Linked DNA regions of Homo sapiens. The protein of the gene in region 4 purifies or fractionates together with the protein of the main gene of each other region. This does not show direct contact. Each region holds a gene or a part of one and is shown on either strand. Other genes may lie near its edges. The genes, in order: SEPTIN6, KIDINS220, BASP1, AXL, PLEKHA1, USP6NL and SWAP70.

Evidence for each region.
Region 1: the proteins of AXL (region 4) and SEPTIN6 purify together in Homo sapiens (affinity purification with mass spectrometry; one large-scale study listed by BioGRID and IntAct). This does not show direct contact.
Region 2: the proteins of AXL (region 4) and KIDINS220 purify together in Homo sapiens (affinity purification with mass spectrometry; one large-scale study listed by BioGRID and IntAct). This does not show direct contact.
Region 3: the proteins of AXL (region 4) and BASP1 purify together in Homo sapiens (affinity purification with mass spectrometry; one large-scale study listed by BioGRID and IntAct). This does not show direct contact.
Region 5: the proteins of AXL (region 4) and PLEKHA1 purify together in Homo sapiens (affinity purification with mass spectrometry; one large-scale study listed by BioGRID and IntAct). This does not show direct contact.
Region 6: the proteins of AXL (region 4) and USP6NL purify together in Homo sapiens (affinity purification with mass spectrometry; one large-scale study listed by BioGRID and IntAct). This does not show direct contact.
Region 7: the proteins of AXL (region 4) and SWAP70 purify together in Homo sapiens (affinity purification with mass spectrometry; one large-scale study listed by BioGRID and IntAct). This does not show direct contact.

Annotation. Positions count from the first base shown.
Region 1 is NC_000023.11:119,648,169-119,651,668, forward strand, and holds part of SEPTIN6 (septin-6), read right to left. Parts: intron 1,931-3,500; coding exon 1,769-1,930; intron 1-1,768. UniProt on the Homo sapiens protein: Filament-forming cytoskeletal GTPase. Required for normal organization of the actin cytoskeleton. Involved in cytokinesis. May play a role in HCV RNA replication.
Region 2 is NC_000002.12:8,778,614-8,782,113, forward strand, and holds part of KIDINS220 (kinase D-interacting substrate of 220 kDa), read right to left. Parts: intron 1,202-3,500; coding exon 1,061-1,201; intron 527-1,060; coding exon 283-526; intron 115-282; coding exon 26-114; intron 1-25. UniProt on the Homo sapiens protein: Promotes a prolonged MAP-kinase signaling by neurotrophins through activation of a Rap1-dependent mechanism. Provides a docking site for the CRKL-C3G complex, resulting in Rap1-dependent sustained ERK activation.
Region 3 is NC_000005.10:17,269,631-17,273,130, forward strand, and holds part of BASP1 (brain acid soluble protein 1), read left to right. Parts: intron 1-3,500.
Region 4 is NC_000019.10:41,236,223-41,239,722, reverse strand, and holds part of AXL (tyrosine-protein kinase receptor UFO isoform 1 precursor), read right to left. Parts: intron 1,780-3,500; coding exon 1,569-1,779; intron 1,254-1,568; coding exon 1,114-1,253; intron 560-1,113; coding exon 409-559; intron 30-408; coding exon 3-29; intron 1-2. UniProt on the Homo sapiens protein: Receptor tyrosine kinase that transduces signals from the extracellular matrix into the cytoplasm by binding growth factor GAS6 and which is thus regulating many physiological processes including cell survival, cell proliferation, migration and differentiation.
Region 5 is NC_000010.11:122,426,708-122,429,776, reverse strand, and holds part of PLEKHA1 (pleckstrin homology domain-containing family A member 1), read right to left. Parts: intron 2,836-3,069; coding exon 2,746-2,835; intron 1,696-2,745; coding exon of another isoform or gene 1,631-1,695; intron 1,520-1,630; coding exon of another isoform or gene 1,397-1,519; exon of another isoform or gene 1,357-1,396; intron 154-1,356; coding exon 1-153. UniProt on the Homo sapiens protein: Binds specifically to phosphatidylinositol 3,4-diphosphate (PtdIns3,4P2), but not to other phosphoinositides. May recruit other proteins to the plasma membrane.
Region 6 is NC_000010.11:11,608,851-11,612,957, forward strand, and holds the start of USP6NL (USP6 N-terminal-like protein), read right to left. Parts: upstream 2,801-4,107; 5' UTR 2,593-2,800; exon of another isoform or gene 2,451-2,592; intron 1-2,450. UniProt on the Homo sapiens protein: Acts as a GTPase-activating protein for RAB5A and RAB43. Involved in receptor trafficking. In complex with EPS8 inhibits internalization of EGFR. Involved in retrograde transport from the endocytic pathway to the Golgi apparatus.
Region 7 is NC_000011.10:9,723,077-9,726,576, reverse strand, and holds part of SWAP70 (switch-associated protein 70), read right to left. Parts: intron 1,920-3,500; coding exon 1,692-1,919; intron 1-1,691.

The DNA.
Region 1 (3,500 bases), on a different chromosome or scaffold from region 4:
GAGCTGAGAACAGAGCCCAGGATGATTATCACTCCTAATCCATGAGGTACCAAGATGTGGTTCTGTGTGACACCTTGAGATGGCTGAGTACTCTCAGTCCCTATTTATTCTTAGCAAAGCAAACCACAAGCCTGCAAGCTGCTTGATGACTTAGGGCATCAGTGTTCAGAAGGTCTCTATGGGGACTGATGTCCTGAGGTGACTAGACGCTTCCAGACATCAGTGCCCGTGGCACCCAGATGACACTTCTCGCGAGGCTCCCGTTTTTCTGCAGACTAGGCTGTCTCTTCATAACAGAGCCTAGTTTCCATCAAAATGCCCTGACTTCTCGAGAGGACAAGTGCTAATCTTTTTTATTTTTTCCATGCCCACGGCCGGTCAGAGAAGACCTATCTCTACCTACCATGCTCCAGATAGCCTTACCCTTGAGCCAGATTTGTCTAAGATGGTGATGGTGATAACAAACACATCTCGGGTGTACTGATGGACAGGAAGTCAGGAGAGACAATGACTTGCTGCCCTGCTATGCTAATTTGTTGGCCAATTCATAGGAGGTGGCAGCTGAAGTTGTAATGATAACTTAGAGGGCAGTGGCAGCAGGAAAGTTTTCTAAAAATGGCTTTTATTACAAGGCTTTCCTGAGTTTGGCTATACCCAGGCATTATGTCATTAGGAAAAACTGATGACACTCAATAGAGAAAAAGAAATCTGTTCCTAAAGCGGAGGCTTTCTGAAAGCTATTAGCTGTCTCCTTGAAATCACAACATTGAAGATTTCACAGCAACAGCAACACATTGTAAGGAAGCATTAGGAGATGTTTGCATCTCTGCCTTCTTTATTACTCATTTCTCTAGTAGGAGAAAGTGGGGGAGGAGAGGAAAGATGGCAAGGTTTTTTATTATTATTATTCATTCACACTTAATAAAGCAAAGCATAACGCTGATTTTTTTTTTTTTTTTTTTTTTTTTGAGATGGAGTCTCACTCTGTCGCCCAGGCTGGAGTGCAATGGCGTAATCTTGGCTCACTGCAACCTCTGCCTTAGCCTCCAGAGTAGCTGGGATTATAGGCGCACACCACCACGCCTGGCTAATTTTTGTATTTTTTAGTAGAGACGGGGTTTTGCCATGTTGGCCAGGTTGGTCTCAAACTCCCGACCTCAGGTGATCTACCCGCCTCGGCCTCCAAAAGTGCTAGGATTACAGGCGTGAGACACCATGCCCAGCCAACCCTGATATTTAAAAATAACATATCTCGGTTGCAGTGAGCCGAGATTGTGCCACTGTACTCTAGCCTGGGCAATGGAATGAGATCCTGTCTTAAAAAAAAAAAAAAAAAGTAAAAGAAAAAAAGAGTTGACTACACTAAGATGGATGGTGAAGATGTTTTGCTGCTATTTGGTAAAATAATAATAATAATAAAGGGGTCAGCGTGGTGGCTCACACTTGTAATCCCAGTACTTTGGGAGGCTGAGGCAGGAGGATCGCTTGAGCCCAGGGGTTCAAGACCAGCCTGAGCAACATAGCAAGACCCCGTCTCTACAAAACATTAAAACATTAGCCAGGTGTGGTGAGTGCACCTGTAATCCCAGCTACTTGGGAGGCTAAGGCGGGAGGATCCCTTGAGCCCAGGAGTTCAAGGCTGCAGTGAGTTGTGATCACACCACTGCACTCCAGCCTGGGCAACAGAGCAAGACCCTGTCTCTAAAGCACATTAAAATAATGATAATCATCATAAAAAGCAAATGGTCAGGAAATTGCTCCCACTCACGTTCATGGTTCCATTGATCTCTGCCACCGACTCATCATCTGTAGGAAACTGATAGATCTGGACTCCGTTGCTGACAAGCTCGCTGGTGATTTTGATTTTGAACTTTGTTAGCTCACTCTTCGAAATGGCATCTGCTTTGGCAATGATGGGGATGATGTTCACCTAGGGAGAGGAGGGGCAAAGTGGGGTCATTGTTGGTAACCTGCAACTGATAGCAGCATGACCTAGGACTTCCACCAGCTGCCAGAGGGAGCCGCTCAGCCCAGTGGTCAAAGACTGGCCACTTCTGTAGCCAAATGACAATATAATAAACGACAAGTACTAACTATGTGCTGGGCACTGAACTAAGTGCTTTACATGAATTAGCACAATTAATCCTGACAATAACCCTTCCAGGAGGTATTATTACTACTATTTTGCCAATGAGAAATTAAGGCATAGGGAGGTTAAGTAACTTGTCCAAGGCCATGGAGCAGGTAAGTAGGAGAACTGGGATTCAAATCCAAACTCAGCCTTATTCCTAAGTCCATAGTCTTAAGCATGAGCTGTCTACCAGTTCAGATCCAAGTTGATGAGCTGTATGTTATCTTGGTATCAAGGTTACTGCTTGGGAGACTTGAAGCAGAAAGGTGATAGCTGGGAATCTGTGGCTGACAGGGGAGAGGTGGCCTCTTCTTGCTAAGAGTAAATTGTCCCAACCCATCGGGTCTAGTCTAGCCCAAGCCGGGTGTGATATGGACCCACATGAGAGATGGCAGGGAAAGGAGGCAGGGACAGTGCTCAGTGAGGATGCACACCTGGCTCTCTTTCTGGCAGGAGACACTGAATAATCAACTCAGTTAGGTGAGGAAGAACCTATAGTTACAATTTGATCTGAGACTTATGCAAAAAGAATTATACTGCCTGAGTCTCATGATTAATTTCTGAGTAAGAAAAGCAAGTATAAATGCCCAATTTCAGGCATCAGGAGAAAGAACTAATCCCAACCAAAAGTTCAATCCACCTGAACCCTAATCCTTGAAATTCCTCCAAGAAGGGACAAGGCTTTTACTGTCAGAAGGTAAAGAAACTTGAAATGCACATGTGTTTGTGAGACAGAGCACACTAAGTTCAGGTTGACATGGAGAGCATAATCATTCCTGCCAGTAGACTCCAACGGGGGGTGGGGGAGGGGCATAGGTGGCACTCAGGCCCCGGACTCTAAAAGGGGAGTCTGGGAGCTCCAGACGTGGAAGAAAAATCCTGCTTCCTCTGCGCTTTGGCTTAGGAGTGCCTCTGAAGGCTGATATCACACAGCCGCTGGGTCAAGGAAAGACTGAACCGTGGAGGCACCTCCCTTGAAGTCTTTCAGGGGCAGAAGGGTCAAAGCCCTTGCCAAGATGAAACAGCAGGCAGAGCCTATTCTCCTTGGCACTTTCGCCAAGTCCCCATTGACACACTATAAACATATATCAGGCCAGGGGCAGTGGCTCATGCTGCTAATCCAAGCACTTTGGGAGGCCAAGGTGGGCAGATCACCTGAGGTTGCGAGTTCGAGACCAGCTTGGCCAACATGGTGAAACCCCGTCTCTACTAAAAATAAAAAGTATCCAGGCATGGTAGTGCATGCCTATAATCCCAGCTACTCGGGAGGCTGAGGCAGGAGAATTGCTTGAACCCAGGAGGCGGAGGTTGCGGTGAGCCAAGATCGTGCCATTGCACTCCAGTCTGGGCAACAAGAGTGAAAGTCCGT
Region 2 (3,500 bases), on a different chromosome or scaffold from region 4:
CAGCTCGAAGCCAATGGCATCTTACCCGTCTATTGAGGGCTGTCTTGCTACCAAGTTTTGTCATCTCCCCAAGGCTGTTCTGTGAAACTCTTCTGTCAGCATCTTCCTGTATCCCTTAAATAATTTATCAAGACAGCATCACTTACACCAAAATTCTGTTGTATATGATATTTAAAGAAATGTGAAACAACAACAATATTTTTCAAGGTAAAAAGGAGAGTCGCCATAAAGAAACTACAAAACTATTTCAAACTCAAAGTACTTTAGGAGCCTGAGCTTTACCTGTAGTATCTGAGCATGGAACGTCTCCATTTGTTGCTGAAGTTACGAGAAATTTTCTTGCATTGCTTAGTCCACGACTATTAAGGAACACAGGCAAGTGGACTATGTTGCGCATGTAGTCATGGCCATTTATATTTGAATCCCGAAGCACACTATTGAGGTTCTGGTTAATTGCCTTTATGATAATATGTGGATCACTTGCAAAAATGGCAATGAACGGGCCTTTTGAAAACAGAACTCGGACCTGTGGCAGAAGAAATGTACAGTTGTGACATACATTTTAAATTGTCCAAAAGAATAAGGCATCTCTTCAAAATATGTGCTACCTTTTGGTGACAATATTTCTAAACTACTATTTCTTTTCATCAAAACTTACTCTGCACAAAAGCAAATTTTACTGACAGCTCAATCTAGGTTTGTTGTCATCTGACATAGATAAAACCTGCAAAGAAAATTAATATTGTCCTTCTTTCAGACATTTACAGTCTGCTAAAGAGGTAAATCAATGCACATGAGAAACATTCATGAATACAGATGCTCTATTCATTTTTCTCACAGTGCCACTAAGCTAAAATTATTTAAATATCTTTGTGACTAAACATTTATTCTTGCTACATTTCTGTATAAAGAATGGTTGTTTTTACAAAAGAAAAATCACAAAATAGGAACTACTCAAACAAAAACCAATTCCGTTCTATTTTTAGATATTTGTGAAGTCAAACATTCTCTCAAGTGCCACAACATAACAATGGTGGCTTTTGAGGTGGCGCAAACGTACAGTGTCCAGCATCTGAAGGACTTTGTCCTGCTCACAGGCATCTAATCCATCGATGATGACCACCAGCCTTGTCTGATTCTGAGTGAAGCTGTCAATGGTTTTTGCCATCCTGGCCATCAATTCCACTTCACATTTAAGAACCTGTATTGCAAAGGAAGGTATAGAAAGCACTGAAGGAAGATCCAAGAAGCTTAAACATATTTCTTAGAAAGCGTGATAGAAAGTCATCTAATAGGAACAGAAGACATTCAAAGTCCTTGCTGCCAGTTGTGCTTCCACTTAAAATAAGAGCGAGTGCTTCACAATTTACCAAGTGACTACACATAAATTACAGCAGCTGATCCTCAGAATGACACTGTGGGATAGACACTACCATATCTGTTCTAAAAAGAACAAACTGGGTTGAGTGACTAACTTGCCAAGATTAGAGGCTCTGAATGTGAAAAGATTCAGATCTGGATGCAAATCCAAATGATCAAAGCACTACACTGCTGCTGGCTCCCTGATGGCATCTGACCTTTCACTTTGAAAAAGAAAATCCTGTATTATTTATTTTGGTGGTTCAATTTGCTATTTTTAAAAACAGATATCTTTACTGGGCTCTAGAGGAACTTATATTATTAGACAGTAGTTGCTAACTCTTTTGAATAACTTATAAAAGTCTATTTTATAAAAACATGCTACTGTTATGATGTTTCTCACTCCAAATATGTATTTCCACTGGAAAAATCTGGAATAGAACTCAAAATAAATAAAAGGACTGCTGGTTTCTGGTTCTACATATATGTAAACACTTTGGAAGTGGCCACTCCTTGATTACGTAAGCTTATATATGTGTGTGTGTGTCTGTGTGTGTGTGTGTGTGTGTGGTGGGGGGTGTGTGTGTGTGTGTATAATGTACATATTATGTATGCTTATAAATGTAAATGAAATTAGTAACAACAATGATACAAGGGACGGGAGAGAGGAATTAGGATTATTTTGCTATTATAAGATAAACTACCTGAGAAGTGATATAGTATTACTTGAAAGTGGGCTTGGATTAGTTATAAATGCATATTGCAAACCCTAGGGCAACCACTCAAAAAAAACAGTTTAAAAAAAAGTACAACTGATATGCTAAGAAAGGTGAGAAAATGGAATCATAAAAAAATGCTCAATAAAAGCATAAAAGACAAAAAGAAGAGTAGAAGACAAAAATAGGAACAAAAATCAAGCAACAAATAGAAAACAGTAACAAATACGATAGATATTAATCCATCAAAACCAATTATCCCTTTGAGCGTCAGTGTTCTAAAGATATCAATTAAAAGAGATGTCAGAGATGATCAAAAAATAAGAGCTAATTGTATGTTATCTACAAGAAACCCACCTTACATAAAAAGACACACGTAGATTAAAAGTAAATGAATGGAGAAAGCTATACCAACACCAATCAAAAGAGAGGGGGAGTAACTATATTAATTATTATATATATATAATATATATATATTAAAGGGGGGCATTACATAACAACAAAGGAGCTGATTCTCTAAGGAGACATAATAATCCTAAACATTTATATATCTAAGAAAGGAGAATCAAAATATGTAAGACAAAAGCTGACAGAACTGCAAGAAGAAATAGATAAATCCACTATCATAGCTTGAGACCTCAATACCATTCTATAAGGACAGATGCAGCAGTCAGAAAACCAGTAAGGACGCAGTTCAGCTCAACAACACCATCAATCAACTGGCTATAACTGACACCTACACTTATTTCATCCAAAAAAAGAAAAAAAAACAGAATACACATTCTTTTCAAACTCACATAAAGCATTCACCAAGATGGACCACATTCTGAGCCATAAAACACGCCATAACAAATTTAAAATAGAAATCATGCATACAATGTCTTCCCCTCAGTGGAATTAAACTAGAAGTCAAAAACAGAACGATAATTGGAAAATCCCAAAACATGCAGAGATTTAAAAACACACTTCCAAATAACACATGGGTCAAAGAAAAAAGTCTCAAGAGAAATTTTAAAATATTTTGAACTAAATAAAAATGGAAACACAACTTATCAAAATTTGTGGGACGCAACAAAAGAACAGCTGAGAAGAAAATTTATAGCACTGAATGCATATATTCGTAAAGAAGAAAGATATAAAATCAGTAATCTGGCTGGGTGCAGTGGCTCATGCCTATAATCCCAGCACTTTGGGAGGCCAAGGTGGGTGGATCGCTTGAGCTCAGGAGTTCGAGACCAGTGTGGGGAACATGGTGAAACCCTATATCTACAAAAATTAGCCAGGTGTGGTGGCGTGTAGCCTGTGGTCCCAGCTACTCGGCAGGCTGAGGTGGGAGGATCCCTTGAGCCCAGGAGGCAGAGATTGCAGCAAGCTGGGATCGCACCACTGCACTACAGCCTGGGCAACAGAGTGAGACTCTGTCTC
Region 3 (3,500 bases), on a different chromosome or scaffold from region 4:
TATAAGGTGGAAGGGAATAAAACTAGTCACAAGATAGTTGTGGGGGATTTTAAAGATGTAAGTTAGTATCTCTATTAAGCTATTTGACATATGATAAACAAACAGTATTCTTCTGCAGGAAGTAGCAAAACAAAATGACATTTGACAATGTTAGCTTCTCTCATTAACATGGTGTGTTTAGCTTATTAGCCAAGATAAGCTGTAGACCAGGTTTTTACCCTTTACACGTGAAATTTGAGGCATTAAATGAGTAAAAGAATTGGGATTCCTTTTCCATCTTGGTGATCAAAACACTTTTCTCTTGTTTCCTTGGACCAAGTGATGAAGAGGTGGTGAGGGGACAGCAAAAAATGCAATTACATTTCTTCTCTTTATTTTTATTTTTTGAGACAAGAGTTTTGCTCTTGTTGCCCAGGGTGGAGTGCAATTGTGCGATCTCGGCTCACCGCAACCTCCACTTCCCAGGTTCAAGCGATTCTCCTGCCTCAGCCTCCTGAGTAGCTGGGATTACAGGCATGCACCACCACATCTGGCTAATTTTGTATTTTTAGTAGAGACGGGGTTTCTCCATGTTGGTCAGGCTGGTCTTCAACTCTTGACCTCAGATGATCTGCCCGCCTCGGCCTCCCAAAGTGCTAGGATTACAGGTGTGAGCCACCACACACAGCCCCCTCTTCTCTTTCTCTGATCACTCCAATACTCGTTCTAATTGGGAGGAATGGATTTAACTAATCTTTGGTTTTTATCTCTGTGTAGAAACTGATTTCTTGGCAGAATGGACTGTTAATATATTTAAAAAGACTGAAAACCTCTTAGAATCTTAAGTAGTAAAATATTCAGAGCGAAGAAGTAGAGATTTTACCTTTACAATATGGTGACAACAGATAACTGTAAAAACTTCTTTTTCAAATAGAACCAGCAGGAGCATGCATGGAACACATATACCAAACATCTTTCTGATAACATTAAACATTTTTAAAAGATGTTAAATGTTCTTTTCATTGTGGTGCTTCAGATTCCTGATTCTAGAACTTGTGTGTGTGGAACCTGTGTGCTAACTATTCTGTTGGAATTTACCAGCAAAGAATTATCTAAGAATTTTCAAACTAAATGATGGGGGAAGGAACTAACATTTTTGCAGTCCCTGGAAATGTAAAATGTTGTACTCACATGGCCTCACATTAAATTCCCATTAAATTGACATTTAAAAAAATTTTTTTATTTTAAAGGAAACGGAAGGACGATGAGATTAAATAACTTGCCCAAGGATTCTGGGTGGGTGTGCTGTGGAGGTGGGATTTTTATACTCTGCCATGACCCAATGTGCAAAGTCTCCTTGAAATTCAATTCTTGTCCAATATTTACCAGATTAAACTCAGTGAAATTCCTCTCTCTACTACTGTTTATGGTTATTTTCTATGCCAATATTAATCGGTAAGCCTGTCATTTTCGCCCTTGTGGCATCGAGTTTTCTTTGAAGGACAGCTTTTTTGTTTGCTTTTTGTTTTTTGTTTTGCTTTGTTTTGTTTTGAGGCAGGGTCTCACTCTGCCCAGGCCATAGTGCAGTGGCTGATCTCGGCTCACTGCAACCTCTGCCTCCCAGGCTCAAGCCTCCCCAGTAGCTGGGATGATAGGTGTGCACCACCACGCCTGGCTAATTTTTGTAATTTTTGTAGAGACGGGGTTTTGCCATGTTGGCCAGGTTGATCTTGAACTCCTGACCTCAAGTGATCCACCCACCTCGGCCTCCCAAAGTGCTGGGATTACAGGTGTGAGCCACCACACCCGGTCTTTAAAGGACAGCTCCAGAATTAGCTTTTTTCTGAGATGTCATAACAGAGGTCAGTTTTAGTGTTTGGTTAATACATAAACACATAGAACTGAGGTCAGTGCCTTCAGCATTGGTCTGAATTTTGTTGCTGTGCTACAAAATTCTAGTGAATTTCCTAGTTGTGGAGAAATGCAAAGTCAGTCTCGGCCTTTTCAGTAGAGCTTTGGTTTAGTGACTTTTTTAGTTGAAGTGACTTTTCAGCATGGATTGTCTATTGCTGTATTTTTTTAACTGCTTTATTTTAATCTTAGAAGTTCCAACTTCTAACTTTCTATACCAAATGATGTCTTTCAAAATTAGAAGTAACAGAAATGAATGAAATCGGCTGGGCATGGTGGCTCACGCCTGTAATCCCAGCATTTCGGGAGGCCGAAGTGGGCAGATCACCTGAGGTCAGGAGTTCAAGACCAGCCTGGCCAACATGGTGAAACCTCATCTGTGCTAAAAATACTAAAATTAGCTGGGCATGGTGGCAGGCTCCTGTAATCTCAGCTACTCGGGAGGCTGGGCAGGAGAATTGCTTGAACCTGGGAGGCGGAGGTTGCAGTGAGCCGAGATTGTGCTGCTGCTGCACTCCAGCCTAGGTGACAGACTGAGACTGCATTTCAAGAAAAAAAAAAAAAAAAAGAAAGAAAAGAAAAAGAATGAAATCATTAAACTGTATGCTCATTGCTTTCTCTTGGTAAAAAGCTTCTCTGGCAAATAGGAAGATGAAATGTTGAGAGGCAGAGGATACTCAAAATACTGAATTTCTTCCTTATTCCCTCAACACCTGAGTTCTGAACTACCCCAGGTGGCACCATCCTTGTAACCCAGGCGCATAACATTCCTGGGCTGAGAGCTTTGCCCCATTGCCGGCTTCTCAGTGGAGTTCCTTCTATCCCCTCTGTGGTGCCTTCCTGCCTTACTGAATTTTGCTGGACTTGGCCTTTGCTCATAGTACAGCTCCACGAACTCAGCTAGTAGGATTTCCTTATGGGTAAAAGGAGAATGTGAATGGCATACTACCCCATGGTGCTGTTGAGATTACATATTTTATGTAATATATTTATGAGTAGGATTGTGCTTGATACCTAGGAAACAGTTAATAGATGTTGTAGGCAAGGTCTTCACGCATATGGTCTTGGGAAATAATGAGACAATCCTGCTTTTCGAGGGTTCAGGTGGGTCCTATGAGCGTCCCTCTGATACCTCAATATAACCAGTAGAGGTAAATTAGCAAAATGCCAGGGGCGTTTGTTAACTTTGTTTGAAAAACAAACTGGATTGAGACATATTTTCTTACTTATAACTTGATTACGTGTGTTCATTTTCGACCCAGAAACAAATCGCAGCTGGGCATAAAACAAAGAATAGAATGTGGCCTTAACTATGTGTCAGAAAAGCCAGTTTTAGTAACTCAGATTTTAGGTTTGTAACCCAACATGACTTTAAACCTCTGGGGATTGCTGTATAGAATTTCATGCTGTGGGTGTCAGAAAGCAGCACCCCATGTTATACTTACTGGACCCCCTATGTTTGCACTTTATCTTAGTGTCTGTAATTTCTAAGTTGGTGTATGGGTTTCTATTACTGGATTGAGAGAAGATCCTAAAGGCAGACCTGTTAGGTTTCCTGTTTCTTATTTAGCTCAACCTAAGGGACCCAATGTATTTTGAAATATCAGAGC
Region 4 (3,500 bases):
ACCCAGCTGGTGGACTGGCTGTGCTTGCCCTGTGAGAAGAAAGGACAGAGAGGAGATGTGCTCAGAGAGGACAAGACTGGCGTGGCACGGGTAAGGGAGTAAGGGTGTGGCACGGGTAAGGGAGTGAGGGTGTGGCACGAGTAAGGGAGTGAAGGTTTGGCACGGGTAAGGGAGTGAGGGTGTGGCACGGGTAAGGGAGTGAGGGTGTGGCACGGGTAAAGGAGTGAGGCCGTGGCACAGGTAAGGGAGTGAGGGGTTGGCATGGGTAAGGGAGTGAGGGCAGCTCTCAGTAAGGCTCAGGGTAGGAACAGGGCCTAAGTTGCGGTAACACTGAAAGGTACAAGGAGTAAGTCAGGGCTGTCAGGGAGAGACAGGGTTGAAGCAGGTTGGGCATGGCTTTGGACTTACCTGGGCGCCAGGCCTCCAGGGGTACTGGGAGGCTCCAGGGTCCATCCCCAGCAGCAGTGTAGGCTGCCACACACACTGTCAGATTGGACACAGACCCGTCCCCCTGCAGCTCCAGGGTCACCTCTTGCCTTAGCCCTATGTCCATTAGCACCTAGGAGGTCCAGAAGTGGCATCAGGGTAGAACCTTACCCCCCAGCTGTTAAGCCTTCACTCTCGGGCTCAATGCCCCATCTCTTTCTCAAAACGCTCTCCCCATCCTCCAACTCCTCATCCTTCCTCGTCCTCCCCTTCATCTCTCATCCTCATCCTTTAACCTGTATCCCTCCATCCCCTTCTAGCTTCCCTTTCCATCCTCCCTCCCTATGTCAGGGTATTGCTAGCCCTGATAGGAGTGCCTTTGTGAAAATCAGGAAAAGGTACCCCTTCCCCAAGGTGCTATATAACTATCTGCTGTAAAATCGTTATATAGTAAATATGAGTCTGCTGAAATGCTTTTGCAGTGGTTCAAAAACAGCCATTCCCCATGCCCTCCCTTAGACCCCCTTATTCTCCCCAGAATGTGAATGTGAACCTTCCCTGAATGTGCCCCCTAGGCATAGAGCAATTGTGTACTACCCAACCTTCACAACCATCTATGTCTGCCCTGATATGTTCTCCTCCCTCCTCCCCAAGCCACTCCACTCCAATCCCACCAGCAGCACCCACCTCTGGGGTGTCCTGGCCTTGATACGCCAGCCGGTACCCTAACAGGGTACCCTGCAGGGGCGCCCGGGGCTCTTGCCAATGCACGAAGGCCTGGCTCCCATTCCGCGTAGCACTAATGTTCTCAGGGGGGCCCAGGGGCACTGGAGGACAGGGAAGAGGGGAAGCTGGCACCCCCACCTCTTCCTGACCCCCTCCCCTGTTCCCAGGAAGTGGGTGCAGGGTGCCAAGGGCACACACGTGGGCAACTCGTGCAGGCCTCCCATGAGAGGAAGCACAGGGGAGAGAAGGGCTGGGAGAGAGGCCAGCGGGCAGTGCTGCTGAGGGGTCAGAGATTGGATGGGAAGGAGATTGAGGCCATGAGGGGTAAAGGAGTGAAAGGGGACAATGGGGGTGGCACTGATATAAGCAAGGTCCGGTGGGGCAGTGGTGACGTGTCCCTCCCCAACCCTTCTTACCTCCCTCCGGCGTCTCCACAGGAAGCCAGTGGGTCCAGGATGAGGGGCCCTGGCTGCTGGTGCATGCCACGCGGATGTGATAAGGGGTGTGAGGATGGAGGCTGCCTAGCCGAAGCTGATGGGGGGGCACGGATGCTTGCGAGGTGAGGGGCTCCTCTGGGGGGTCTGGTTCTCCCGCCTGGATGCCCATCCCATCGTCTGACAGCACAGCCTGAGGAGAGGCAAGGGTGTGAGGACGGGACAGCCAAGCAATCACACGAGATGGTCACACAGCTCCCAGTGGTGGTGGTCTGGTGTGACTACACAACTTTTCAAGGGTGCGTGTGTGTTGCAGTGCCATGCTAGGATAACACGGGCACCTGGATTTGCAAAGCAAGGAGATCATTTGGCTGTATACAATGTGGTTCTGTCACCACTTCCAAAAGCCACCTCTGGCAAGACTCTTCCCTCTCTGAGCCTCAGTTTTTTCCTTGGGCACACGGGGCCTTAGAGGATCAAGTGCCTTACAGGATTGTTTAAAGATTAAGTGTAGTTATGCCCAAAGGATGCCACAGTGCATGGCGGGTGGTCAGCACCGATAATAATAGTGTGATGACAATAATAACGCAAATAGACTGGGCACGGTGGCTCCCGCCTGTAATCCCAGCACTTTGGGAGGCCAAGGTGGGCGATCACTTGAGGTTAGGAGTTCAAGACCAGCCTGGCCAACGTGGTGAAACCCCATCTCTTCCAAAAATGTAAAAAATTAGCTGGATGTGGTGGCGCTCGCCTGTAATCCCAGCTACTCGGGAGGCTGCGATAGGAGAACCACTTGAACCTGGGAGGCAGAGGTTACAGTGAGCTAAGATCACACCACTGCACTCCAGCCTGGGTAACAGAGCAAGACTCTGTCTCAAATAATAGTAATGATCATCATAATAATAGCACGATACTGTGAGGCCCCATTTATATGACATTATACTACAGGCAAAAGCAATGTTCTAGAAGCAGAAGGGTGGCCATCTCTGGGGCCTGAGGGAGACTTCTTGGGGACTGGAAGGGTCTGTGTCTTGATTTGGATGGTGGTTACATGGTGAATATGTGTGTTAAACAATCTCAAAGGTGTCCAATCTTTTGACTTTCTTGGACCACAGTGGAAGAAGAATTGTCTTGGGCCACACATAAAATACGCTAACACTAACGATAGCTGATGCGTTAAAAAAAAAAATCACAAACAAATCTCATAATGTTTTAAGAAAGTTTACGAACTTATGTTGGGCCGCATTCAAAGCCATCCTGGGCCACATGTGTTAGACGAGCTTGATCTAGAGGTACACTGAAGATTATGCATGTTATACATCTCATTTCTTTTTCTTTTTTTTTTTTTTTCCTTTTTTTGGAGAGGGAGTCTTGCTCTGTCGCCCAGGCTATAGTGCAGTGGTGAGATCTTGGCTCACTGCAACCTCCGTCTCCTAGGTTCAAGCAATTCTTCTGCCTCAGCCTCCCAAGTAGCTGGGACTACGCGTACCACCACGCCCGACTAATTGCCGTATTTTCAGTAGAGACAGCGTTTCACCATGTTAGTCAGGCTGGTCTCAAACTCTTGACCTCAGGCAATCCGCCCGCCTCAGCCTCTCAAAGTGCTGGGATTACAGGTGTGAGCCACCGTGCCCGGCCTATGAGTCTCATTTCATCACCTGAGCTGGAGTGCAGTGGCGTGATTTCGGCTCACTGCAATCTCCGCCTCCCAGGTTCAGGCAATTCTCATGCCTCGGCCTCCCAAGTAGATGGGATTACAGGCGTGAGCAACCATGCTTGACTAATTTTTTTTTTTTTTTTTTTTTAGACAGAGTCTTGCTCTGTCACTCAGGTTGGAGTGCAGTGGTACAATCTCGGCTCACTGCAACCTCCGCCTCCTGGGCTCAAGTAATTCTTCTGCTTCAGCCTCTCGAG
Region 5 (3,069 bases), on a different chromosome or scaffold from region 4:
GACCTTGGCAAGAGACTCGTAAAATCCTCGCTTCTCCATGGTAAAGGTTGAGACCAAAGAGTTGCTGCGAGAGGCTGTGGAATGTGAGGTGGCGGTGGCTGCGTTGGTAGGACGGAAAGCGTGTTTGGATTCTGAAGGACCGGGGGGATGCTCCTGCAAAAAGGAGTGGCAGTCAGACACGGTCAGTCACTCATGACCAGGTTAGTAACTCAGTGTGAGACTTGATTCTCTGAAAAACAAATAAAACACACACACACACACACACACACACACACACACACAAAGGCAGCAGCAGAAGCCATGCAGCATAAATGTGCAAGTTCTTTCCCAAAGCAACGCGTTTTTAGAGGTGAGTTTAAAGCAATGATAGCCAAAAACCATTTCCACTAGGAAACCAGTTCCGTCACCAAAGCTGAATTTGGCAGCCTATGACACTTTGAAGATTCAGCCAACCTAAACTGAAATACAGTGTTCCAGCTGCAACTGAACTGTGTTTAAAAGAGAACCTCCCAGCTGTATCATTTTATTTAAGAGTATATTCTCAGTCAACACTAGGAATTATCCCACATATTTTAGAATGAAAAAAATTAAAATATAGACTATAACAATGAAAGGCCATATTTCTTTAATAAGCACGAATCATCTTTCAAACATTATTCTGCTGATAAGACTTAGTTTTTACTTCCCTGAATTTCACTGCAACCAATAATAGCACAGTCTTTTCATTTTTTACTTAATTTTAGTTCTGAATAGGTCATATATTCATATGGCTTAATATTTTAAAGGTAACAAAGGGTACACATTTATCACATTTTAAACTGTGGTGAAATAATTAGTAGTTGAGAATGTTAATTTCAATATGCTTCTAACTAGATCAAATCTGAAAATATCCTTAAATATGACCATTCTAAATACATTGCTATATACTAGTATATTATATTCATTTATGATACCAGTGGCTTTGAAATCAAAGTGCTACAAATTACCAAAACACTACAGAGTCCTATTAGATGGCTAAATTTCAGAGATTTTTAAATGCCATGCAAACTATAGTAATGTACAGTTTATCCAATGCATATGCATGCATTAGTTTGCATATATTATTAGAACAATGGTGCATTTCGTAAGTATTGTATCTTAAAAATTTTTAAATACATAATATAAAATTGAAACTCTTGCAGCAGTTGAGTATATTAATTTTTATATGTTAATGTCTCTTTCTGTTAGTAAAGTTGTATGTTTTATTTTTTATTTTTAAATACACATATCCAACCTGATGACTACAGTGAAACAGTTTGCGTTAGTATTGACAAAATCAGTTATGATAACTGCAAAAGGCAGTTTGGTTAACTCAACTTTCTATGATCAGTTGTAAGTAGTAAGTCTGGGCCCTCCACTAAGAAGGCACGTTTGCGTGAGAGCCCACATACGTGCTGCATTCACCAGCTCTTGATGTATACCTCTGTATACAAGGGTTCGACAGCCTTCTGGCCTGCCGCATCTGGAACACAGTGCAAAGCTAAGATTAGAGTTAACCTATACTGGGTAGAGGGAGGAAAAGAGAAAGTTGTGCTGACAGTCATAGCTAGATAGTCCAATCTGCCCCCACCACAAAGCACAAAACACAAACATCCTTCTCCAACTTTTCCTCTTCCCAACAGACACTGTTTTTGCAGAGAGTCTCATACTTGACTGCTGAAAAAGTCACATAAAATACAGGCAGTTACAAAATGAACATCTATGAAAGTGACTTCTTAGATATTTCAAAAAGGATATAAAGAGAGAATGACTTAACAACTAAGAAATCAGAAACATTGATTTCTATTTATTTATCTGTAGTTATCACTACCAGAAAACTAATAAAAGGCGGTATTATAATACTATCAGAAAAAAATATTAAAAGTGTAAGTAACTAGCATATATGTCATAGTAAATCTAGATAATAAAGGCTATCATGCTACATATGAGACTACTTTCCGCAGATGGCAGTGTTACATTTTAAGATACTTTAAATTTTCAGACCTGAGATCAGTGGCCAAAGTATTCCAAATGCAAATCTAATTCTTATGTACTTGAACACAAGAAAAATCTTTTAAAAAAATATTTCTGAGCAGAATGTTTAGTTGTATTTCAATTTTATTATCATACTACCACAAAGATAATTATGGTAGTTTTCAGAAGCAGGCTGTTAAAGCAGGTTTTAAAATGAGAATTAAAACATGAAATGGAAACACTGGGAGCACTGAACTGTATTTAAGGCCCCAGCTGCTCAGTGATCTGATGGCATGGTTAAGCCAAAGGTAAAAAACAAAACAAAACCAAAAAACCTGAACTGAAATCAGAGGAAGTAAAGAGGAAATTGAGACGTTCACAAAACTGTGTAACGCTACAACTAAAAGTCTTACATGATCCTGATCACACACCATACTAAGAATCTGTCAGATTATGCCAAATCTAGAGCTACTGACAAGTAAGAACTCCTAAAACAAAGCAAGGAAATGTTTATTCTTTAGTTGCCCTACTTGTGCATTTAACACAATACAATGCACAGAAAGTTATGTATACATAATACTACAAGGAAGCATTAAATTAGAAATGCATTATTTTTTGCAAGTCCAATTGGTATAAAAGTCAACATGCAAATAAATCTCAAGAAAGAAAGAAACCGGATGGATTGGGAGAGAGGAAATTTGATAGGATGGGGGAGACGCAAGGGAGTATCACCCCAGAGAGCAGGAAACCTACAGAAGACGCAGATCTGCCGGGACCCCGCTGTGCTACAATGGCGCCAGAGACTGCTTTAATCCAACTGTGCATCTCTTCAGGGCTATCAGCCTAAAGGAAAAAAGAACTCATTCAAACAATTTTTTCTCAAAATCACCTACTTCTATACAGCCAATGTATTTATTTTGATAACTTAAAATACTGTCATCAACAAAATCACTCTAAGGCAACTGTTTCCAAAAAATTTAGAAATCATTTTTTTAAAGCCAGGTTTTGCTAGGTCTTAACTACACAGAGACATAAATTGAGCACTTCAATGTCAAGATCAGACCCATCAACAGGCGT
Region 6 (4,107 bases), on a different chromosome or scaffold from region 4:
TAGACCAGTTGAGAATCCAAGTCTCTGTCGCTCCAATTCCCATGCTTAAATCTCATGTACTACATGGACGTGTGCTACAAGTTGGATTTCTTTTCAATTATTATTCTTACAGTGACTTCCACTGTAAATACAGGAGTCATCTGTTCAAGGGAAAAATGAGTCTCTCAATATAATGAAATCATATCTGACAATGGACTATGCTTTTCTTTTCTTTTCTTTTCTTTTTTTATTTGAGACAGAGTCTCACTCTGTGGCCCAGGTTGGAGTGCAGTGGAGCGATCTCCGCTCACTGCAACCTCTACCTCCCAGACTCAAAGGATTCTCCTGTCTCAGCCTCCCGGGTAGCTGGGATTACAGCAGTGCACCACTACCGCCCAGCTAATCTTTGTATTTTTAGTAGGAACGGGGGTTTCAGCATGTTAGCCAGGCTGGTCTTGAACCCCTGACCTCAAATGATTCATCTGCCTCGGCCTCCCAAAGTGCTGAGATTACAGGCATGAGCCACTGCAACCCGCCAGTCTATGCTTTTCAAAAATCACATTGAAGGAACAAACTATAACTTTCTGGTAATTAGAGGTCTGCATTGCACTAGTTACAAAGTAAGAATGGTTAAAAAAAATCGTTACAGTGAAATTGTGAACATAAACCAGAATTGTAATCACTTGTCTCGTTCTCGCTACCTCAAGTGGCAATTCCCAAAGCTATCCTATTCTACTACATTAACATTCCTCACACTTTCTAATCAGAGTAATTTTGTTTGTTTTCAGTTTGCTACTAGCTTGAACTCATTGGCCTCTTTTTCACCCATCTTAGCTGGCTACAAAATGTAACAAGGACTTGACACACATGGGCACATGGTGGCAAAGATGGACCAAGGCAACCCTTGCTTGGCATTGGAGACTCAGGTTGGATCTGCTGGGGTGAGTAGTTCTCTTGGTTCCCTATAACGCCAGAGGATGATCAATCACCTAACAGTGCCAAATCTGACACTTTCACTTACTGGCTTGTTTAACCAAAGTCAGTCCCCAGTAGGAGCTATTTGCATGTCAAAACATTATTAAAACTGGTAATGGACTAGTCTTACCAGAAACAAGTACAACAAAGAGTCTGGCTGCATAGCTAAAAACTAAGTAGGCACCAAAACTGAGGCTCAGGGCCCAAATTCTTAATATTTGGCAAAGGATGTTTCTTTGAGTGCCTTTGTAACAACTCATTAATTCTCTATATATATATAATCAGCAAAGGAATTTCTGTTAACTAAGGATACCTGTACTTGCAATTAGGATTTCTTCCTTTAAAAGTTAACTTATACTTTTATTAGTATAATTTTTTTTCTATTTGGACATTTTAATTGTCTACGTAGAATACAACATGGCATCAACATCCATTTTAAGTAATGAACTACACTATGTTTACAAATGTTGTTATAAAAGAATGGCAAACCAGGAAATATTTTTGTTAATTTTAGGGTCTGACTGAACCAGAAATAAAAGCAAATAAACCACTGTTCACTTGCTGCTGGCTAATTTATTCTTATTCAGATGACTTCAGGAAAGAAAAAAGAACACTGACTTCCCCCTGAAGGAACTTGCCAGAGACTCAATATAGGAGGGAGTTGGCCAGGGTGATCTCTAAAGTTCTGTGTAACTTTTCTAAGCTATGAAATATTAAATATCTATCCCAAAGGTGTAATTATTTTTATAAAAGGATTAATACAGGATTGAAACCATTTTCTTTCAACAAGCAACATACTTAAGACGGCGTCCTCACTTTTTTTTTTTTTTTCCATTCGTCTCGCACTATTTCCAATCACTGGGTACGGCCCTAATTCAACAAGCCTTCCCAGTCCAAAGAAGGCATGCTGAAGTCTACGGTCTAAAAAGCATCTATCTGCGGATTAAATGTTGGGAAAGAAAGGGATAAGGGTTGGGGGTGGGGAGAGACAACATTTTCAAATTACAGAAACGTGCACCCATGGATTCCTACGCGTCCCGCATTTTCTAGCAGTAAAACACCTGCGAGGAACCGTTTTCACGCATTACAAATGCCGCACCAGCCTAGGGTTGTGAGCGCCAAACTATTTTGCAAACTTTGCAAAGGCGCACGGATTTCCAAGACTTGCAGATCTCTCATTCGCCCCATCCTCCCCTCGCCTGGTCCAAACAAAGTTCCGCGGCATCAAGGCAGTCATTTAAAGGCACGAAGTTTGCCCGGGTCCTGCCCACTGGGGCTCGGGAGACGCGACCGAAACTTGCGAGGGAGACGCGCCTGGCCGGGATCGCGGCTCACTCGGGGAGGCAGTCGCCGGGTTCCACCCCCGGGCCTCCCCGCACCCCGCGCGGCGCCCCCAGCCCGCCCATCGCCCCGCGGACCCCACGCTCCGGGCGCGGGGACACACAGGCAGCCCCCGCACTGTGCCCGAGCCGCCCCCCAGGGCCGAGCCGCGAACCGCAGCCGCGTCCCCTCCTCCAGGGGCCGGGAATGGCGGCGTCCGGCTCCCCGGGGCCAACTCCGAGTCCCGGCCCGGGGAGGACGCCCGCGGAGCCCGCCGCCGCCGGCCCCTCACGGCGGGAGCTGAGGAATGGAAGTTACCTCAGTACGGTCCCGACTGCTAGGCTGTGGGCAGCGGACAGAGCTGGCGGTCCCGGGCGGCCGAGCAGATCCGGCGCGGCGCGGCGCGGCGGCGGCGGCGGCTACCGCAGTGCCCTCCGCCCCATTGTTTCCCTTCCAAGAGGATCCCGGCGAAGCCGAGCCCGGGAACCAGGAAGTTCCCCGGCGCGACACCTCCTGCCGCCGCTATGGAAACGGCCCCCGCCTCCCAGGGCGGCTCGCCCGGGACCCCGCCTCCGCGCCTCCGGCCCCGCCCGCCTCACCGGCCGCCGCCAACCGTCACCGCAGCGGCCGCAGCCGCCGCCATATTGGCGCGGCCCCTTCCCGGCGGCACGTGCGCTCCGCTCCCGCACTCCCGCCGTGCGCGCTCCCGCCCGCCTCGGGGACGCGCGCCCAGGGCTGCAGGTGCCCGGAGCCCCTCGGCGGGAAGCGGGCGCTGGAAGCCCAGGACCCAAAGCGGGGCTTCGGGGCACGCAAACGAGCGACATTGGCGTGTCCAGCCGGCAGGTCAGAGGATAGCAGAGACGTAGGGAGGTCAGCTGAGTAGGGGGCGAGAGGATGGTCTCCGGAGCCAGCCTGGCTTTTTTTTTTTTTTCATTTCTGCCTCAACTACTTACCAGGTGTCAGCCCTTGGACACTTTTCCCTGTGCCTCAGTTTCTTCATCTGTAAAGTGGAATGATAATAGGACCTGCCTCATGGGGCTGTCCTGGAACAAGCGAGTGCTTGGTAGTAAGTGCAAAGCTCAATAAAATGCCATTGCTACTGACATAGGTGACACTGCTGTCATTTTTCAGGAACTTAGGCTAAGCGTTCACATCAGCACTACTTTAAGTAGGCTACTGTGTAGATCCCATTGCTGCTTCAAGCTTCTCAAATGTTCATCACTGTCCCATCTTTCTGTAGGTCAACTTTCCTTTTTTACATCGTGGAAATTGTCAAGAGTTTTAATCTCCAAAGCCTCCCATTAAGGGGTGCCATAAAAAGATGAATGATGTAAACTTCCCAAAGCCGTAATTAGCTGACAGTTAAATGATTGATTCAATCGAAGCTAGAAAAGTTAGGGTGTACAAGTAACCAAAAGGCTTCCTGTCCTTGATTCCAGGAACTAGAATTACTGAACCTGGCAACCCTGCACTGTGCCTTTTATCTCTCTTTTCCAGCTGGTGAAAACTGACACGAAGAAACTGAATGCTGCGCCCAATATCTCACAGAAGGGGTGGAAGGAGGAGGCAGGGTCACAGGCTCTTTGCTAGCACCCAAACTTTGAGAACTGTGACTCAGATTAGGTTTGGTCTCTAAGGCTCCTTCTAGCTCTCAAGTGTGGTAATCTTAACGACAGGGATACCCAGCAATACAGTCTGAGAAATTCATCCTTAGGCAATTTCGTGATTGTGCGAACATCATAGAGTATATTTACACAAACCTAGATAGTAGAGCCTCCTACACACCTAGGCTATAAGGTGTGACTTATTGCTCCTAGGCTACAAACCTGTTCT
Region 7 (3,500 bases), on a different chromosome or scaffold from region 4:
GGACATTTAAGCAAAAGCTATCTCATACGGCAATTCTACTACAGTCATATCCTGCCATCCTAAGAGGCTGAGAATTCCACTTCAGATGGAGACCACGTCTCATACCTCTTTGTAGCACCAAAAACCTATACAAATTCAGCCTCAACATTTATGATGTGCTCCATTAGGAAAAAAAAGAACAAAGACAACACTATTACCTATGGAAGAAAGAAAGGATCAAAGTAAGGAAATCCCAAATCAGTTATTATTCAATATAATAATGTAAGAAGTTTCAAAGAATCACCAAAAAAATATAAATTGTATTTAACAAGCATCGAGCTTCATCTGCTATGCTGGGTGCTGAGAAAAAGAGGACAGTCTAAATAAGACAAAAGCAACTTTGCTACATAAAGGTATTTTTTTTTCCACAAGTAGAGGTATTTTTCTGATTTTATAAAAATAATATAAAATCATATAGAAAGTCCAATAATACAGAAAGGAATAAAGAAGAAAAAAATTCACCAAAATCCCACAATCTAGAGGTGATCACTGTAAACATTTTAGCAAGCACCTTCCTGACAGCTCTACACACATGCATAACATTACCTGAAGGGGATTACAAGATATCTCCTGTTCAGCAATGTGGTTTTTTTTCACTCAACGTTATGCCATGGAGATCTTTCTGGATCAGTGGTTATGAATTTCCAAAATAAAATATTTTGGAAATGGCCTGGGCGCGGCGGTTCACGCCTGTAATGCCAACACTTTGGGAGGCCAAGGCTGGTGGATCACAAGGTCAAAAGATCGAGACCGTCCTGGCCAACCTGGTGAAATCCCATCTCTACTAAAAATACAAAAGCTAGCTGGACGTGGTGGCGCACACCTGTAGTCCCAGCTACTCAAAAGGCTGAGGCGGGAGAATTGTTTGAACCCGGGAGGCGGAGGTTGCAGTGAGCCAAGATCATGCCACTGCACTCCAGCCTGGTGACAGCGTGAAATTCCGTCTTGGAAAAAAAAAAAAAAAAAAATATATATATATATATATATATATATATATATATATATATTTTGTATTTTTAATACAGACAGGGTTTCAACATGCTGGCCAGGATGGTCTTGAGCTCCTGACCTGGTGATCCACCCGCCTCAGCCTCCCAAAGTGCTGGGATTACAGGCATGAGCCACCACGTCCAGCCAAAATATATATATATATTTTAACTGTATTCTTAACTGTACTTTAAAATCGCACAAATAATTTTTTTTAATGAAAGCCTAATACAAGACTGGAAAAATAAGAAATTTTATTCCTATTCAAAATCAGGCCAGGCCCAGTGGGTCACACCTGTAATCCCAGCACTTTGGGAGGCCGACGTGGGTGGATCACTTGAGGTCAGGCATTCGAGACCAGCCTGGCCAACATGGTAAAACCCCATCTCTACTAAATATACAAAAATTAGCTGGGCATGGGGGTGCATGCCTTCAAGGCAAGAGAATCCCTTGAACCCAGGAGATGGAGGTTGCAGTAAGCCAAGATCACGTCACTGCACTCCAGACTGGGCGACAGAGCAAGACTGTCTCAAAAAAACAAAAAATAAAAAAACGAAATCAGTGTAAGAAAATAAGTGACTTATACTCATCTTTGTGACAAAAATATTAATTTTAAAATGTCAAATTCTAAAGATGAGAAAAAAAAACAGTAACAGAATTCTTACCTGCTTTAACACATCTAATATAAGTTCATTAAAGACTTCATTAATTGCCATAGACACAGTCTGCCGGTCCATGCCTTTGCTAAACTGTCCATTTCCAATAAGCTCAATAAGTTCCCATGCAGAAAGGCCATTTTTACTGTCATCAAAGTTGATTTTATAATGTTCAAATTGTTCTTGCTGCCAACCTCCTCCCATAGCTTCTGTAAGCTTCTTAAGCAGGTATTCAATCTACATAAAGAATGTGAAATAATTATTTCCTAGTTAAAAAAAACTTTAACATAGTTATGTATTTATGTTATAAACACTGATAAGTTCAACTTAGGAAATACTCTTTACAGTTCCAAAAATGCCTACCTTTAGAGTCTCCTAAAATACAGGGAGAGAAGTATAAATAAAATGCCACTGGTCTGTATTAGTGCAGAATAAGTAAAGGAATCAAAAACTGATAACCCTCTAATAGTGTAGTATATTTGTCTGCAGAACTAAAACAAACTGCAGATATATGACAGCATACAAACTAATTAATGTGATCTGATTACTCGCTGTTAAATATTTCAATATATCAGAACATTAGTCTTACTCAACAAACAAGCGCTAAATTAAACATCTCAAAGTAATATGTACAAGTTATTGATCAATTTACAAACTTTCCACATAAGCCAATTATTTAAAATTCATGCTGCTTCCTCCCACTGGAACACTACAATGTTGTAAATAATGGTGGAATACCTAGCATGAGCAGGAAAAGCTTACTAAATCCTAAAACATCATACTTTGTGTAGAAAATACTGCTATTGAAATAATAGCAGTTAGGCCAGGAGCAGTGGCTCATGCCTATAATCCCAACACTTTGGGAGGCCAAGGCAGGAGGATCACTTGAGGCATGGAGTTCAAGACCAGCCTGGCCAACATGGCGAAACCCTGTCTCTACTAAAAATACAAAAAAGTTAGCCAGGCATGTGGCGCACACCTGTAATCCCAGCTACTCAGGTGGCTGAGGCATGAGAATCGTTTGAACCTTGAAGACAGAGGTTGCAGTGAGCGGCGATTGTGCCACTGCACTCCAGCCTGGGCAAGAGCAAGACTCTTGTTTCAAAAAAAAAAAAAAAAAAAAGTAAAGAAGGAAAGAAATAACAGCAGTTAAACAAAACAATAAGGCAGTAAAACTGAATGAGAATTGATACCTCTTATTTTCTGGAAAGCCCAAATATCCTATACAGTGCTCTCAAACTCAACATATGTCCAAAAATGAATGAATCCTCTCTACTTTCCAAATGGCTTCCCCGCTGTATTATTGATTTCCATTAGGAATAACACCATTCACACATCCATGTCAGGATTCTTGCTCCCCAACCCCCACATCAAACCAAGGATATAATCCTGCTGTTTTATTTCCCTAAATGAGCTCCCTAATAAGTTTGAAAACTGTGGGTTATGGCCCACTATGAAGTCAACTTAGTGGGCAGCAACCAGCATTTTTTTTTAATGGAATGAAAAACATGTGAGTTCATCCACAATAAAGAAATAGTGTTTTGTGATAAGTTTTGCTTTGAGTGTGTGTGTGTGCTGGGTCATGATATAAAATGTTTATCTTCCTATGGGTTGCAGTGAAAATAAAATTTAAAACTTTGTCCCAGGCAGCTCTGAACTCTGTCACTCCTATTTGATCTGCTTTTGGTCGGGCCTCCTGGTTGGTATCTGTACCTCCAGGTCGCCACCTTTTATACATATTCTGCCAGAGGGATTTTTCTAAAACAAAAGCCAGAGCCTGACCCTCCCCTCTTTAAGCCCTGCCCTGGCTCCCTATCA